3 linked regions of the Homo sapiens genome follow. The protein of the gene in region 1 interacts with the protein of each later gene in a biochemical or structural test. Each region holds a gene or a part of one and is shown in the gene's direction. Other genes may lie near its edges.

Region 1 (3,122 bases):
ACATTTGAATTTCAGTGTCCATAAATGAAGTTTTATTGGAACATAACCACATTCATTTGCAAGTTGTCCACGGCCACTTTGGTGCTACTGTGGCAGAATTGAGTAGTTGCTGCAGAGACCGTATGATGAGAATATGTGGCATTCTCATCATTTTGCCCTGCCGCTCTGTGCAATGTAAATTGCAGTGACACAGTTATAACTCAGCAGCATTTTGAATGCCACTTGTATTCCCATGCTACAACATTTTATTTTTTATTACCAATATATACAAGAAAAGTGGATTTCAAATATCATTGTGCTTTTAAGGTACAATGGAGTATGAATTGTTACTGAATTAGGCAGCAAAGTGCAATGACATGGTAGCTGTCCTAAGGAACACAATACAACCAGGTGCAGTGGCTCATGCCTGTAATCCCAACGATTTGGGTGGCTGAGGTGGGAGAATCACTTGAACCCAGGATTTGGAGACCAGCTTGGGTGGTATAGTGAGACCCCCCATCTCCACAAAAAGTAAAAAAAAACCAAAATACATGTTGTTACTTCCCATCTTAGCACTCATCAAGATATTTCTAATTCACAAGAAAGCAATGGTCAGAAAAATTAGAAAATTTAAAATTGAATATCTCATCACAGAATTTATTCACAAAAATAAAAAATGAAAATGAAGCTACAACCAAAGTAAGTTTCAGATGGCTCATTTGTTAGCCAAGCAAGGAAAGTCACTTATGGTGAATTAATTAAATCATGCTTGATTACTGCAGCTGAAGAAACATGCTCAGAGAAAGTAAACTTGTTTATTGGCCTTTCCACGACAACAGTTGCTCAAAGAGTTGACATTAGGAATGACATCAGTAGTCGACTAAAAAGGCAAATGGTTTTGAGTGGTTTCCCCTGACTCTCATGACAGGGGTCACCATATGTTATGCACACTGCTCCGCTATTGCTCTTTATTTGAGGAGCCAGTACCAAGTTGGAAGTAACTGAAGAATTGGCCTCTATCAATAGTCTTATGTGGAACAACTACTGGCAAAAGTATTTTCAAAGCTGAGAAAACTGGTCAGGTGTGGCGGCTCATGCCTATAGTCCCAACACTTTGGGAGGCCAAGGTGGGCAGATCACCTGAGGTCAGGAGTTTGAGACCTGCCTGGCCAACATGGTGAAACTACATCTCTACTAAAAGTACAAAAATTAGCCGGGCATGATGGCATGCACTGGTAATTCCAGCTACTCAGGAGGCTGAGGCAGGAGAATCGCTTGAACCCAGGAGGTGGAGGTTGCAGTGAGCTGAGATTGCACCACTGTACTCCAGCCTGGATGACAGAGTGAGAACATTGTCTCAAAACAAAAAGTTGAGAAAACGAATTCAGTACACCCTGAAGTGGAATCTGCTAAGATGTGTTATGACTGTTGGTAGTGGAAATATATGTGTGTATTAGTCCATTTTCATACTGCTATAAAGAAAAGCCTGAGACTGGGTAATTTATAAAGAAAAAGAGGTTTAATGGACTCACAGTCCCGCATGGTTGGGGAGGCCTCACAATCGTTGTGGAAGGTAAAGGAGAAGCCAAGGCAAGTCTTAGGTGGCGGCAAGCAAGAGAGTGTGTGCAGGGGAACTGCCCTTTATAAAACCATCAGATCTCATGAGACTTACTCACTATTATGAGAACAGCATGGTAAAATCCTGCCTCCATGATTCAGTTACCTCCCACTGGGTCCTACCCATGACACGTGGGGATTATGGGGGCTACAATTCAATGAGATTTGGGTGGGGACACAGCTAACTCATATCAGTGTGGAATAGAAAATGGCTCAGTTGGACAACTTACAAAGCTTGTAATAATATAAGGTGTTAAAGCCTATAGATTATTCATTGTATTATTTAAGTCAACAGATACTTTGTGAGAAATATTTGAATCTATCATGCATTATTGAACCAGTATTGTCAATAGTGAACTTCCTTTAGCTCTTGTGGACTTCACTATCAACAGCTCTCATGAATTTTTGTCAGAAATATTAGCTGAATATCCCGACATGGCCTGTAATACAGCAGTTCAATGGTTTAGTAGTGGTAAAGTTTCATTTAAGTTTTGAGCTCAGGACAAAGATTGAAATTTTTCTGAATGAGAACTGCCCCGAACCACCGTTACTAAACACTGAATAGTTTTGGAAATTCACTTTTGCTGCAGACTTGATAGTGTTTCTTAAGGAATTCAGCCTAAACCACAAGATAAAAACAGTGTTTATGTGAAACTCCTACTGTGTTAAGTGATTTCAAGAAGAACTATTGTTTGAATCACAACTAATGTTACTGCTTTAAGCTCTTCCCATGTTGTTAAAAGTTAAAAAAAGAAGAGCTCCATTCCCACACACATTTGCCACAGATACATTATCTGAGCCCAAACTACAGTTTGAGCAGTGTGTTAGGGACCTCAATGCAAACCCAAAAGAAATTTTTATATTTCAGAATCCATTGATCTGCATTTGAGAAGTGATTAATGTGTTGAAAGGCAACTATCTAAAGAAAAATTTAATAGAGTCTAATAGAATCTTATAAAAATGTATAAATGTGTTTTATGTAATAAATATGCTAAGCTAAACATCTTATGCTCATGAGCTGGGTGCAGTGGCTCACACTTGTAATCCCAGCACTTTGGGGGTCTGAAATGGGAGGATCACTTCAGCCTAGGAGTTCAAGACCAGCCTGGGCAACATGGTGAAACCCTGTCTCTACAAAAAAAAAAAAAGTACAAAAATTAGCCTCGCTTGGTGGCACATGCCTGTGGTCCCAGCTACTTGGGAGATGGAGGTGGGAGCATCATCCGAGCCTGGGAGGCAGAGGTTGCAGTGAGCTGAGGTCACACCACTGCTCTCCAGCCTGGGTGACAGAGCAAGACCCTGTCTCAAAAAAAAAAAAAAAATGCTCATGGACATAGTAGTGTTGGGAAGGTACCTATCTGTGTGAAGACATGTTCAAAGATGAACTGTGTCACATCTCATTCCAAATCAGCATTAACAGATAAATATATGCAAATATGCAATTGGTTTTGACGATTCACAACACTAGCTCTGAATCTCAATTAGGGAAATGTTATTCCCCCAAAAGATTTCCAATTCTTATTGGT
Region 2 (7,036 bases), on another chromosome or scaffold:
CAGGGTATATTTCTTCTCCCTGTTTATTTTCATTATTTTTACTTTTATTTTTTGAGACAGAGTCTCGCTCTGTTGCCCAGGCTGGAGTGCAGTGGTGTGATCCCAGCTCACTGCAGACTCTGCCTCCTAGGTTCAAGTGATTCTCCTGCCTCAGCCTCCTGAGTAGCAGGGATTACAGGCACACCACCATGCCTGGCTAATTTTTGTATTTTTAGTAGAGATGGGGTTTCACCATGTTGGCCAGGCTGGTCTCGAACTCCTGGTCTCAAGTGATCTACCTGTCTCAGCCTCCCAAAGTGCTGGGATTACAGGCATGAGCCACCACACCTGGCCTTATTTTCATTTTTATTTATATATATTTTTTGAGACAGGGTCTCGCTCTGTGGCCCAGGCTGGAGCACAGTGGCACCATGACTGCTCACTGCAGCCTCAGCCTCCCAGGTTCAAGGGAACCTCCTGCCTCAGCCTCCTGAGTAGATGGAACCACAGGCATGCACTACCACTAATTTTTGTATTTTTTTGTAGAGACGGGGTTTTGCCATGTTGTCCGGCCTGGTCACGAACTCCTGAGCTCAAGCAATCTGACCACCTCAGCCTTCCAAAATGCTGGGATTACAGGCATGAGCCACCAGTTTTTTTTGTTGTTGTTGTTGTTATTGTTGTTTTGAGATGGAGCCTCGCTCTGTCGCCCAGGCTGGAGTGCAGTGGCATGATCTCAGCTTACTGCAGCCTCCACCTCCTGGGTTCCAGTGATTCTCCTGCCTCAGCCTCTCAAGTAGCTGGGACTACAGGTACGCACCACCACATCCGGCTATTTTTTGTATTTTTCAGTAGAGATGGGGTTTCACCATATTGGCCAGGCTGGTCTCTAACTCCTGACCTCAGGTGATCCTCCCGCCTTGGCCTCCCAAAGTGCTGCAATCACAGGTGTGAGCCTCTGCACCCAGCATTTTTTTTTTTTTTTTTTTTTTTTTTTTGAGTCGGAGTTTCACTCTTGTTGCCCAGGCTGGATGCAATGGTGCGATCTCAGCTCACTGCAACCTCCACCTCCCAGGTTCAAGCAATTCCCCTGCCTCAGCCTCCCAAATAGCTGGGATTGCAGGCATGTGCCACCACACCCAGCTAATTTTTGTATTTTTAGTAGAGACGAGGTTTTACCATGTTGGTCAGGCTGGTCTCGAACTCCCAACCTCAGGTGATCTGCCTGCCTCGGCCTCCCAAAGTGCTGGCATTACGGGCATGAGCCACTGCACCTGGCCTTTTTTTTTTTTTTAGAATCTATTGTAAAGCAAAGATCTTGTCTCCAGTATCCCACTGGGAGTCTCTTTGGAATTCTGGTCCATGTTCAGCTGTCATAGGGTTTGCTAGGTCTCTGGGGGATTATCTGTGCTCCTAGAGAATAGTACTTAATCCTGGCCAAGCGTGGTGGCTCACGCTTGTAATCCCAGCACTTTGGGAGGCCGAGGTGAGTGGATCATGAGGTCAGGAGTTCAAGACCAGCCTGACCAACACAGTGAAATCCCATCTCTACTAAAAAATAAAAATACAAAAATTAGCTGGGCGTGGTGGCGGACGCTTGTAATCCCAGCTACTTGGGAGGCTGAGGCACAAGAATCACTTTAACCCAGGAGGTGGAGGTTGCAGTGAGCCGAGATCATGCAACTGCACTCCAGCCTGGGCAACAGAGCTAGACTTGTCTCAAAAAAAAAAAAAAAAGAATAGTACTTAATTCTAGCCCACTCCACTTCCCTTCCACAGGTGGCACAACTCTTTACAGACAACTTTGACTACCAAACTCGAGATGACTTTGTGCGAGGTCTCTTAGTGAATGAGGAGGTGAGAAAAGTCTTCCAATGCCTCTTTAGGAGAGAGGAGAAGGCTATGATTGTATCTCATGCTGGTAACTTTTGATCTTTTTTGTATTTTATTGAGGCTTAGGAGGGAGGAAAAGCAGGGGACAGGAGGAACAGTACACAAAGAAGAATCTTTGTGGCAGTGAGAGGCAGAGGGGAACTTAAAAGGATTAGAAAAGTTGTACTTGGGGGCATTCTTCCTGTCTTTCTTGCTTAGGTGACCTCCCTTTCCTTCTCATTCAGATCCTAGGGAACCAGATCCACATGCACGTAACAGCTAAGGAATATGGTGCCCGTGTCTCCAACCTACACATGTACTCAGCTGTCTGTGCTGACGTCATCCGCCGATGGGTCTACCCTCTCACCCCAGAGGCGAACTTCACTGACAGCACCACCCAGAGCTGCACTCATTCCCGGCACAACATCTACCGAGGGCCTGAGGTCAGCCTGGGCCATGGCAGCATCCTAGAGGAAAATGTGCTCCTGGGCTCTGGCACTGTCATTGGCAGCAATTGCTTTATCACCAACAGTGTCATTGGCCCCGGCTGCCACATTGGTGAGCACAGGTGGGGAATCAAGCCAACTATCCTAGGAACAGGAACCTGGGGGGGCCACGTCTCCAGAAACACAAGGGATGGCTACACAAGGGACAGTCCCTGGGAATAAGGAACTATAGAGCGGCTACCTCAGGAAAGGAGGAAACAGGGATTTGAAAACAGCGATACCTTAATTTGTAGCCTGTGGGCCTCTCATTGGATGACTCTTCACATTCCAGGGTACCCTGTAGTCACATTCAGGAGCAAGTAGATAATTAACATGCAGTAACAACATCTATTTAGCACATTACAGTTTACAAAGGGCTTTTATATACATTGTTACATTTAATCTTCATAATTTACAAATAAACAGGCTCAACAAGATTTTCTTGCCCAAGGTCATTGGTAATAATGGTGGGACCTGAATCTGGGTATTCTGAATGTAAGTCCAGTGTTCTTTTGAGTCTACCATAACTGCCTGGTTGGCCTCTTGGTATCTCATTTTGGTTGCAGGAGTGTGATGCGTCTAATAGTACTGCCCCTTTCCAAGAACAACAGTAAGGCTCAGATTCTAGGGGCTGAGCGTGGTGGCTCATGCTTGTAATCCTAGCACACTGGGAAGCCATGGTGGGAGGATCGCTTGAGCCCAGGAGTTCAAGACCAGCCTGGGCAACATAGCGACACCCCTTCTCCACAAATGATACAAAAATTAGCTGGGCATGATGGCGCGTGCCTGTAATCTCAGCTATTCGGGAGGCTGAGGCAGGAGGATTACCTGAGCCCAGAGGTCGAGGGTGCAGTGAGTCATGATCATACTACTGCACTCCAGCCTGGGTGATGGAATGAGACCGTGTCTCAAAAGAAAAAAAAGACTTGGTTTCTAAAATGTACCAGAAGAGGTGGAATTATTTGGTTCTGCTTGTAGGCGTGGATATGATTCTAATAAGGTTTTTTGAGTTCAGAGGGTCCCCAGAAATCCTGAAGGTTCTCGGGTTCTTAAGCTCTGTGTGTAGTCTATAATTGTTGTAAACTTGGTGAAGTATCTTCTCAGGCCTGGGCTTAGGGGGTGAGTGGGTGTTTCTGGTGACTTGCGGGATGGGGAATGAGAGCTAGGTGGGAGCTGTGCTGGTGTCAGTCAGCCCTGTCCTCTATGAAGGGCTCTGCTCTGCGGTTGGAACCCTGAGTTACCCAGAGGTCTTCCCATCCTGAGCCAGGTGATAACGTGGTGCTGGACCAGACCTACCTGTGGCAGGGTGTTCGAGTGGCGGCTGGAGCACAGATCCATCAGTCTCTGCTTTGTGACAATGCTGAGGTCAAGGAACGAGTGACACTGAAACCACGCTCTGTCCTCACTTCCCAGGTGAGACCTGATCTATACTGTGCACAGGCCCTGAATTGCATGGCAGTCACACTGAGCCAGAAGGGGCATTATTTCCACCCATAATCCTGTCTAAAAAAGTTGCTCTCATTATCAGGATGCACTTTTCCTCCACACCCTAATGGTTCTGTGTTTTTTTTCCCCTTAGGTGGTCGTGGGCCCAAATATCACGCTGCCTGAGGGCTCGGTGATCTCTTTGCACCCTCCAGATGCAGAGGAAGATGAAGATGATGGCGAGTTCAGTGATGATTCTGGGGCTGACCAAGAAAAGGACAAAGTGAAGATGAAAGGTGTGAGACTCAACAGGTGTGGGGCATCTGTGTGTCTCGCTGCCTCATAGAAGAACCAGTGTTTCCTCCTGGAGGGATTGGTGCTTCCGCCGGGCCCTCTCTATAGATCATTGCCTTTTCCAGGTTACAATCCAGCAGAAGTAGGAGCTGCTGGCAAGGGCTACCTCTGGAAAGCTGCAGGCATGAACATGGAGGAAGAGGAGGAACTGCAGCAGAATCTGTGGGGTGAGCTAGGCCTGATGCCTGCCCTTCTCCTCCTGAATCGGAATATTTTGAAGGATAATGAATACTTCAGAGTCACATTACTTATTCACTCCTTTATTCAGGCAGACAGGGCAGGTATATTGCTCTCTGTCAATGACTCTTTTTTTCTTTTTCCTCACCCATTATGGCTTCTCAGGACTCAAGATCAACATGGAAGAAGAGAGTGAAAGTGAAAGTGAGCAAAGTATGGATTCTGAGGAGCCGGACAGCCGGGGAGGCTCCCCTCAGATGGATGACATCAAAGGTGAGTGGCAGGGGAGAAATGCGCTGGACCAGTTTATTCTCTGCCTGGATCAACTAGCCAGAGGCTTACGTTCCTCAGAAAGGGTTTGGTATCGAGTCAAGACTAGATGACTTAGAGCATTCTGAATGATGTTGGCCCATGAACTTATCCTTGCTTTGATTTCAGTGTTCCAGAATGAAGTTTTAGGAACACTACAGCGGGGCAAAGAGGAGAACATTTCTTGTGACAATCTCGTCCTGGAAATCAACTCTCTCAAGTAAGAGCAGCCCCTCCCTGTTCTCCTCGGGGTGATCCCGGGAAGGTAGAGGCTTTCTCGTAAGTGTTTTGTCTCCAAATAGGAACCTATTCCTTCGACATCCCAAATGGAAAGACCAGTAGTATTTGGAGCAAGGAGAGCATTATTAAGTTCTAGCCTCAGCATAGACTTTCTCCTTCCTAAACCCTCCCCTTCCATATTGTTCCATCCAGATTCCTCTCCAATGTCTATCAAAGTCATAGTTCTAAGCCTGCTGAAAGGCCAGTGAAGGCCCTGGTGTCACCCCAGTCTCCCCACAGGTATGCCTATAACATAAGTCTAAAGGAGGTGATGCAGGTACTGAGCCACGTGGTCCTGGAGTTCCCCCTGCAACAGATGGATTCCCCGCTTGACTCAAGCCGCTACTGTGCCCTGCTGCTTCCTGTGAGCAAAGATTGGAGCTGAGTACAAGGGATTGGGTACAGGCAAAGGAAATCAGGAGTAGACTGTCTTGTTATATTGGGTGTATGTCACTTCTGGTTCCTTTTTCCTTGCCTCTGGAAGCTGGTTGGGCTCTAGAGCAGCCTTGGCTGGTTCAGAGGGGTCAGATTGAGTTCAATACTGACTGGCCTTTGAGACTCCAGGATTTCATACCATCCTAGGCCCACAAAGGTATATTCAGAATGGACCTGGACATTCAGACTCTATGGCAGCAATTTGACCCAACACAAGATCAGCCTCTGGGGTGGGAATAGGTATTTTGAGGCAGCCTATAGCATCTGATCCCCTTTCACCTTCCCTAAGGAATCTCTTTTTCCCAAACCCTGTCAACAACTCCCAAGTCCCTCTGACATAATTCCACAGAACCTGTATCATCTCCCTTTTGTCCACCCATGTCATCAGTATGGATTTGCTTGGATGTCCAGGTATAGGTGAATGCTTAGGAATATACTGCAGCTCCCTTCTTTCTTCCATAGCTGCTAAAGGCCTGGAGCCCTGTTTTTAGGAACTACATAAAGCGCGCAGCCGACCATTTGGAAGCGTTAGCAGCCATTGAGGACTTCTTCCTAGAGCATGAAGCTCTTGGTATTTCCATGGCCAAGGTGAATATGACCTCAAGCCCCATTCTTCTGCACTTGCTTTCAAACGAGGGTTGGTGACCCCCTTGGGAGACATAAAATAGAAGCTAATGTGAATCCAGTATGGACCATCCACTCCCAATATGCTTATTGCTAGAATAGTACAGCTTGGAGCCGGACTAATAAGGTAGCCATCTGGGGGGTGGTCTGGAAATGTGCAAAGCTCTCCCCAGCAATAGTTCCAGAAGTTAGACCTGCCCCAGGAGCAGAGCGAACAGCTCACTCTTGTCCGTTTTGGAGGAGGCTACTCAGTGCATAGAGGGATCTGAGGGCCTGGTAGAGTATCCTGCTGGACTTTCCAAGGCCCCTGAGGTCCCCTTTATTGGCCTTTTGCAGGTACTGATGGCTTTCTACCAGCTGGAGATCCTGGCTGAGGAAACAATTCTGAGCTGGTTCAGCCAAAGAGATACAACTGACAAGGGCCAGCAGTTGCGCAAGAATCAACAGGTGCGTCAGGCTGTCCTCCTCTCGCCAAGATGGTTATCTCATTCCCAGGTCCTGGCCCCTAGACTCTAGGGTGGTTGGTTTCTGGGGCTCTGGTTGTTAGAGCTGTTTATCTGCCGAGGGGAGCAGGAGAGTTATGTGCACCTCCCCCAGCCGATCTCTCCTCTGCTTCTTTACAGCTGCAGAGGTTCATCCAGTGGCTAAAAGAGGCAGAAGAGGAGTCATCTGAAGATGACTGAAGTCACACTGCCTGCTCCTTTGGGTGTGATTGAGTGCCCTCCTGGCTCCTGGGCTGGGACAAGTGAGGAACTAGCTGCAGAGGGATGAGTGACCACCATCCAGGCTGAGACTGAAAGGAGCAGAGGCTGGAACTACAGTATTCTTTCCCCTGCTAGCAACCATGTGCCTCCCATCCTGACTGTGGAGTTGGGATGTGGAAGTGGGGCTGGAACAAAGCTTCTGCCTAGGGAGGAGCTAAGCAGGCCCGGCAGTTGGAGGAAGGCCAGAGGAACAGCTTTGTGCTCCGGCTTTCCCTCAGGGAACAGCAGAGAGCAGTTGGCTCTTTCTGCTGCTTGTATATGTTAATATTAAAAGAGAGAGTGGTGTATTTGGTTTGTCTCCATCCCTGACTAATCAGCCAGTGAAGTATGTGA
Region 3 (7,036 bases), on another chromosome or scaffold:
TGTTGAAAGTCTGTGGGTGCTCCATAAAATGAATATTTAGACTTAGTCATATGGATTTTTAAGAGTTAAACATGGATGACAAGATCTATGAATATATGTAGAAAAATCCTTAGGAATCTACAAAAAAGCTACTAAAACTAATAACTAATGTAGCAAAGTTATAGAAGCCAAGATTAATGTACAAAAATCAGTTGTATTTCTATATACAGTACCAATGAACAATTGGAAATGGAATTTAAAACAGTTTCATGGTCAAGCACAGTGGCTCATATGTGTAAGCCCAGCATACTGGGAGGCCAGAGTGGGTGGATCACTTGAGCCCAGGAGTTCAAGACCAGCCTGGGCAACATGGCAAAACCCTGTCTCTACAAAAAATACAAAAATTAGCTGGGTACGGTGGCTTGTACCTGTAGTCCCAGCTACTTGGGAGGCTGAGGTGGTAGGATCAATTGAGCCTAGGAGGTCAAGGCTGTAGTGAGCTGTGATTGAGCCACTACACTCCACCCTGGGTGACAAGCAAGATCCTATCTTAAAAAAAATAAAACACAATTTCATTTATAATAGCATAAAACTTGTGTAGAAATCAAGTTAATGGGCCAGGCGCAGTAGCTCATGCCAATAATCCCAGAACTCTGTCAGGCTGAGATGGGCAGATCACTTGAGGTCAGGAGTTTGAGACCAGCCTGGCCAACATGGTGAAACCCTGTCTCTACTAAAAAATACAAAAAATAAAAATTAAAATTAGCCAGGCGTGGTCACGCACGCCTATAATTCCAGCAACATGGGAGGCTGAGGCAGGAGAATTGCTTGAACCTGGGAAACGGAGGTTTCAGTAAGCGGAGATCATGCCCCTACACTCCAGCTGAGGCGACAGAGCGAGACTCAGTCTCAGAAAAAGAAATAAAGAAATAAAATTAATGAAAGAATCATAAGAAGTACACTGAAAACTTTAAAACATTGCTGAAAGAAATTAAGGCAGCCGGGCGTAGTGGTTCACGCCTGTAATATCAGCACCCTGAGAGGGCGAGACAGGCAGATCACTTGAGGCCAGGAGTTAGCGACCAGCCTAGCCGACATGGCAAAACCCCATCTCTACTAAAAATACAAAAATTGCCTGGGCGTGGTGGTGCGCACCTGTAGTCCCAGCTAAGGCATGAGAATCACTTGAACATGGGAGGCAGAGGTTGCAGTGAGCCAAGATCGTGCCACTGCACTCCAGCTTGGGTGCTAGAGCGAGACTCTGTCTGAAAAAAAAGAACTTAAAAAAGGCGTAAATTAATGGAGAAATGTGCTATGTTTATGCGTTGGAAGACTTAATATTGTAAGATGTCAGTTCTCCCCAGACTGCTCAATAGATTCAACACAATCCCAATCAGAATCTCAGCAGGCTTTTTGTAAAATTCGACAAGCTGATTGTAAAATGTACATGGAAAAGCAAAAGTAGAGAATAGCAAAACAATTTTGAAACAGAAGAACAAAGTTGGAGAACTCACTGTCTGATTTTAGAACTTACTAGAAAGCTACTATAATCAAGACAGTTTGCCTACTAGCAGACAGATAGGCAAATAAATAATGGAACAGAATAGAGTCCAGAAATAGATGAATAAATACATGGTCAACTGATTTTCAATAAAGGGGTCAAGGTAATGCAAAGGAGAAAGAATTCTCAACCAATGATGCTGGAAGAGTCAGACGTTCATATGTAAAAAAGCAAACCTTGTTCGGGAGCTGTAGCTCACGCCTGTAATCCTAGCACTTTGGGAGGCCGAGGCGTGTGGATCACCTGAGGTCAAGAGTTCGAGACTAGACTGGCCAAAATGGTGAAGACCCTTCTCTACTAAAAATATTAAAAAATTAGCCGGGCGTAGTGGCACATGCCTGTAGTCCCAGCTACTTAGGAGGCAGAGAGGTAGGAGAATTGCTTGAACCAAGGAGGTGGAGGTTGCCGTAAGCCAAGACTGTGCCCATTGCACTCCAGCCTGGGTGACAAGAGCAAAACTCCGTCTCAAAAGGAAAAACAACAACAAAAAGCAAACCTTGATTCATATCTTGTACCATATAAAAATTTAACTTGAAATGACTCAGAGACCTAAATATGAAGCCTAAAACTAGAAAACTTTTAGAAGAAAACAGGGAAAAATATTTGGGACCTGGGATTAGGCAAAGATTTCTCAACTAGGACATAAAAAATTTTTTGGGTGCGGTGCTTACGCCTGTAATCCCAGCACTTTGGGAGGCCAAGCCAGGAGGATCACTTGAGCCCAGAAGTTCGAGGCCAGCCTGGGCAACATAAGGAGACCCCATCTCTACAAAAAATTTAGAAATTAGCTGGGTGTGGTGGCACATGCCTGTGGTCCCAGCTACTCAGGAGGCTGAAGCTGGAGGATTGCTTAAGCCCAGGAGGTTGAGCCTGCAGTGAACCACGATTGCACCACTGCACTCGAACCAGTGCAACAGAGTGAGACCCTATCTCAACAACCCAAAATTATACTGCCACATTGCACATAATGCAATATTATTCAGCAGTAAGAAAAGAAGCAACTACTGATACACACAAGAACATGGATGAATCTCAAGAGCAGTGTACTGATGAAAGTAGCCAGACACAAAGACTCAAGACCATCTGATTCTATTTATATCGTATTATGGAGAGACAAAACCATAGATCAGTGGCTACTTGGGGTAGGTATGAGGGGTTGACTGCGGAGGAGCCTGGGAGAGCTTTCTGGGTTAATGGAAATGTTTTATATCTTACTGTGGGGGTTATACAACTGTACATTTGCCAAAACTCATTTAACTGTACACTTGAGTGGGTTTTATTATATGCAACTATACCTAACTTTGGGGGGAAAATGTCTGGAAGATACTGGTGTGTCTGAGACTGAGGTCAGAAAGATGAGTAGAAGGAATTTTATTTTGTGTTGTCTGGTTAGTGCTTTTCCCCTTATTGTGGATGTTTACCAAATATCCCCACTATTCCATCTTCCAGTTGGAAGTTCATAAGCAAATGTACAGTTAGTGTCCCATTGAGCCAGATTGAGTTTGACAGCAAAGATTGGAAGTTAATGGTGGGCTAAAATTGACTCTAAGAAAAAGTGATCAGAGCTAGGTGGGACTTTCTCATCAATGGCGCCGACTTTTTTTTTGCCAGTCACAGTGGTTTGGGCTCTCAAACGGTCATTTGACATACCTTTATGTGTAAACATAATGAGCCAGTGTTGAGTTTGGGGTTGGTGAGGGTTGTGCACTATTGGATTTTTAAGTGAGCATTAGTTTGTTTAATGAAATTGCAAAGGGTGTTTCATATTCCTGGCCCCTGAGCACCAAATGTCCTCAGCACTTCAGTCATTGTGGCAGCCAAGAACCACCCCTGGTCATTTTCAAATACCTTAGGGGTTTCAGGGGAAGGTGTGCCTGGCCTGGCAGATAGTGCACTTATGTAGTTGGAGTCAAGAATGCAGACTTGAGTCAGAAAACCTGTAATCTCTGTCTCCTACTGGCTTTGCAGTGTTGAGTGTAACCACCCCTTTGAGTCTGGGTGTCCTTGTCTGCCAGAGGATGGTTGGACTAGATACCCTCTCATGGCAATCGTTTTTGATTCTGCAGTTTAGTGTAGTACAGTGTCAAGACTTCTGTCACTGGCCAGGCATAGTGACTCATGTCTGTAATCCCAGCACTTTTGGGAGGCTGAGGTGGGAGGATCAGTTGAGCCCAGGAGTTCAAGGCCAGCCTGGGCAACATGTGAGGCCTTGTCTCTACAAAAAATGAACAAAATTAGCTGTGTCTGGTGGTGCATGCCTCTAACCCCAGCTACTTGAGAGGCTGAGGTGGAAGGATCACTTGAGACCAGGAGGTGGAGGCTGCACTGAGCTGTGGTTGCACCACTGCACTCCAGCCTGGGCAACAGAGCAAGATCCTGTCTTTAAAACAAAAAACAAACAAAAAAAACCTCTGTCACTGACCAGGGATCTAATGTATTTGCTGTACTGCTCACAAATGCTTATGTGGCTCAACTTTGGTATGTTACAGGTTCAGCTTGTTGGTTTAGATGAGGAGAGTTCAGAGTTTATTTGCAGAAACACCTTTGACCACCCATACCCCACCACAAAGCTCATGTGGATCCCTGACACAAAAGGCGTCTATCCAGACCTACTGGCAACAAGCGGTGACTATCTCCGTGTGTGGAGGGTAAGCGGATGCTTTATTAGCAGCCAGACAAGTGGGCTTTCTCAGCCTCAGCTGTTAGCAGTGAAAAGTCACAGAACAGACAGGGGTCAGAGGCAGCGAGTGTCATTGCAGCACAGGAGAAGCAAGCGAAGCTTAAATGGACTGGCCTCGTTTGGCTCAGCAGATTTTCTAGTATATCAAGTCAAGATTCCATGAAGTCTGGCTGCTGGCTGCAGTCAGCTCAGTCAACCCGAGGTGATGATGACGGCCTTCAGTGGAGGTGGGAATACTTGGGAACTCATATTCTGTTTGCAGCCAAGGTATTTTTGAGTAAACTAAATGAAATACCAGGCCATTGATTCTGATAAAGTGTGTGAGTGGATCTTGGAGGCTTCCCTCCACCCTCAGCTGAGCTCATCAGCAGCAGCGTCCTCTGTAGCATGGGCGTGGCCTTAGTACACCTGTGCAGAGGTTCCAGGCTGGGCAAAGTGAGAAGACCTCTCCTCTAGGAAGGTGCAGGGATGAAAATGTAGAAAACAAAGCTGGGCAGAGGAGAAAGTATGGGAAAAAGTAGCATTCAGGGAGTCCTGGGTTTATTACTGTTTTTGATAAAAATGTTTTCCCCTCATGTCTTATGTTTGCTAAGATATTTTCTAAACAGGGATTTTTTAAAAGACTTTTTATGAGGATAAGACTGGCTGATTTTTTTTAAAATTCTTGTTCCTTCAGGTTGGTGAAACAGAGACCAGGCTGGAGTGTTTGCTAAACAATAATAAGAACTCTGATTTCTGTGCTCCCCTGACCTCCTTTGACTGGAATGAGGTGGATCCTTATCTTTTAGGTAAGGGAGTTAGGGAGTATGTATTTCAGCTGGAAGAAGCCAAAATAAATTTTCTCAGATGTCACACTGGGCCATACATCCTAGAACAAGGCTCAGTGGGAAGTAGGCTAGGCGTGGAATGTGGTTATTTATTAATTCCTTTGTGTGGGTGAGCTTTCCGTGTGTATAGATCTTGTCTCTCCAGTTAGAATCTAAGGTCCTACGGTGAGGACTGAAGACTTGACTGCCTCGGTGGCTCTGCCGGTAGCCCCCACCTTGTTTTCTGTAGTCTTTATGGTATGCTGCTCCCTGGGCTGAGCAGATGAGTAAACACAAGAGGGAAGCTTGCATGAGAACCTTGGTCCCGTCAGCCCTGACTTGCACTGGTTGTTTGCAGGTACCTCAAGCATTGATACGACATGCACCATCTGGGGGCTGGAGACAGGGCAGGTGTTAGGGCGAGTGAATCTCGTGTCTGGCCACGTGAAGACCCAGCTGATCGCCCATGACAAAGAGGTAAGATGCTTTTCCATTTCGTCTTTCCTCAAATGCTTCCTGTGCCTTCCGCACAGGAAGAGGTCAGCTTGTTCTCTCATTGTTCTGCAATTTATGTAGAAAATCATAACATAACATCTTCTTGTCTAAATTGACAATAGTAATGTATCAAAAACGGGAAAACAACACTATTGTAAACTAATGCTTTTTTTTGGCTAATGTAAATGACCTATTCTACGGTCTGTCATTGTTCTTTTCATGCCAGAGGTTGCTTTTTTTAAATAACAAAGTCTCTTATAGAGGAGCTGGGAACTGATGTGATTAAAAAATAACTTTAGAGTAATACTTATCTTGAAACAGATTAGATTTGGGGAGGAAAGAAGGGAGACAGGAAGAGAAAAAATTTTCTGAGAGACAAACGTAATTATTCATTTTTCTCTATAAATGTTTTACCAAATCCTAGTATGTTCACTTAATCTTTATACTTTCATTACTGTTGGCAGTGGAGGCAATGGAATATATTTTATTTTGATGGCGATGCTTCTGTGTTTATTGGGAAAACTGAGAAGAGCTATTTGTGATTGCTTTTTTTTTTTTTTTTTTTTTTTTTTTTGAGACAAAGTTTTCCTCTTGTTGCCCAGGCTGGAGTGCAATGGCGCAATCTGGGCTCACTGCATCCTCTGCCTTCTGGGTTCAAGCAATTCTCCTGCCTCAGCTTCCGGAGTAGCTGAGATTACAGGTGCCCGCAACCACCCCTGGCTAATTTTTGTATTTTTTAGCAGAGACAGGGTTTCACCATGTTGGCCAGGATTGTCTCGAACTCTCCTGACCTCAGGTGATCCACCCACCTTGGCCTCCCAAAGTGCTGGGATTACAGGCGTGAGCCACTGCGCCCGGCCAATTGCATTTTAATCAAAGCATTCTTCTCAGTGATTTTGGAAAATCCCCATAAGTCTTTTCCTCCTACAGCCATTGCATGCTCCTGGTACTCTCATCTCCTGTGGGTACTATTTCCTGTTCTTTTCTACCTTACCCTGCACAGCTAGGGGTATTAATATCTATACAGATAAAAGGAATGCCTTGATCTTAGGTCAGAAACTTGAGGTTGTCAACAGCATAGGAAGATGTGACCCAGGTTATCATTCTTAGTAAGGGGTTGTCTTTGGCTTTCTGTACTCCTGAAGGTAAGCCCTGTTACAAGACTTCTAGAGTTGACTGCTGCTAAACCAGGGGTCAAATGAAGAGTTTGTCCCACAGAGAGGACCAGTAAGGAACTTCTGGAAACCCTCTTGGCATCAAGTTGAACAAGCGGCTACATTTTAGTTATATGACAACTTAGCCTGCTGTTGTCTGTTAGGTCCAACCCAGAAAATGGGAACTACTCTTAAGTATTTGAACTGCAGGGATTTAATCCAGGGGCTGCTTATACAGAAGATGGTAAAGCTGAGAAGCCACATAGGTAGCAGTGAGGTCATCCATAGAATGGGAGCAGCAGGAAGCTGCAGCTGCCTATAGGCCAGAGGGACCATGGGAGGAGGCAGGGTTCCTGGAGCC

What was found. The genes of interacting proteins can lie anywhere in the genome.
Region 2: of the proteins of DYRK1A (region 1) and EIF2B5, one has a biochemical effect on the other in vitro, tested with the Homo sapiens proteins (one study listed by BioGRID).
Region 3: the proteins of DYRK1A (region 1) and DCAF7 form a complex in vitro, tested with the Homo sapiens proteins (2 studies listed by BioGRID).

What each region holds. Positions count from the first base shown.
Region 1 is NC_000021.9:37,523,762-37,526,883, forward strand, and holds the end of DYRK1A (dual specificity tyrosine-phosphorylation-regulated kinase 1A), read left to right. Parts: 3' UTR 1-2,597; downstream 2,598-3,122. UniProt on the Homo sapiens protein: Dual-specificity kinase which possesses both serine/threonine and tyrosine kinase activities. Exhibits a substrate preference for proline at position P+1 and arginine at position P-3.
Region 2 is NC_000003.12:184,138,322-184,145,357, forward strand, and holds the end of EIF2B5 (translation initiation factor eIF2B subunit epsilon), read left to right. Parts: intron 1-574; exon of another isoform or gene 575-603; coding exon of another isoform or gene 604-618; intron 619-1,758; coding exon 1,759-1,836; exon of another isoform or gene 1,837-1,894; coding exon of another isoform or gene 1,895-1,900; intron 1,901-2,096; coding exon 2,097-2,409; intron 2,410-3,603; coding exon 3,604-3,749; intron 3,750-3,915; coding exon 3,916-4,057; coding exon of another isoform or gene 4,058-4,073; intron 4,074-4,180; coding exon 4,181-4,282; intron 4,283-4,457; coding exon 4,458-4,565; intron 4,566-4,730; coding exon 4,731-4,821; intron 4,822-5,120; coding exon 5,121-5,244; intron 5,245-5,777; coding exon 5,778-5,903; intron 5,904-6,275; coding exon 6,276-6,386; intron 6,387-6,562; coding exon 6,563-6,622; 3' UTR 6,623-6,990; downstream 6,991-7,036. UniProt on the Homo sapiens protein: Acts as a component of the translation initiation factor 2B (eIF2B) complex, which catalyzes the exchange of GDP for GTP on eukaryotic initiation factor 2 (eIF2) gamma subunit.
Region 3 is NC_000017.11:63,574,441-63,581,476, forward strand, and holds part of DCAF7 (DDB1- and CUL4-associated factor 7), read left to right. Parts: intron 1-4,029; coding exon 4,030-4,188; intron 4,189-4,896; coding exon 4,897-5,008; intron 5,009-5,384; coding exon 5,385-5,503; intron 5,504-7,036. UniProt on the Homo sapiens protein: Involved in craniofacial development. Acts upstream of the EDN1 pathway and is required for formation of the upper jaw equivalent, the palatoquadrate. The activity required for EDN1 pathway function differs between the first and second arches.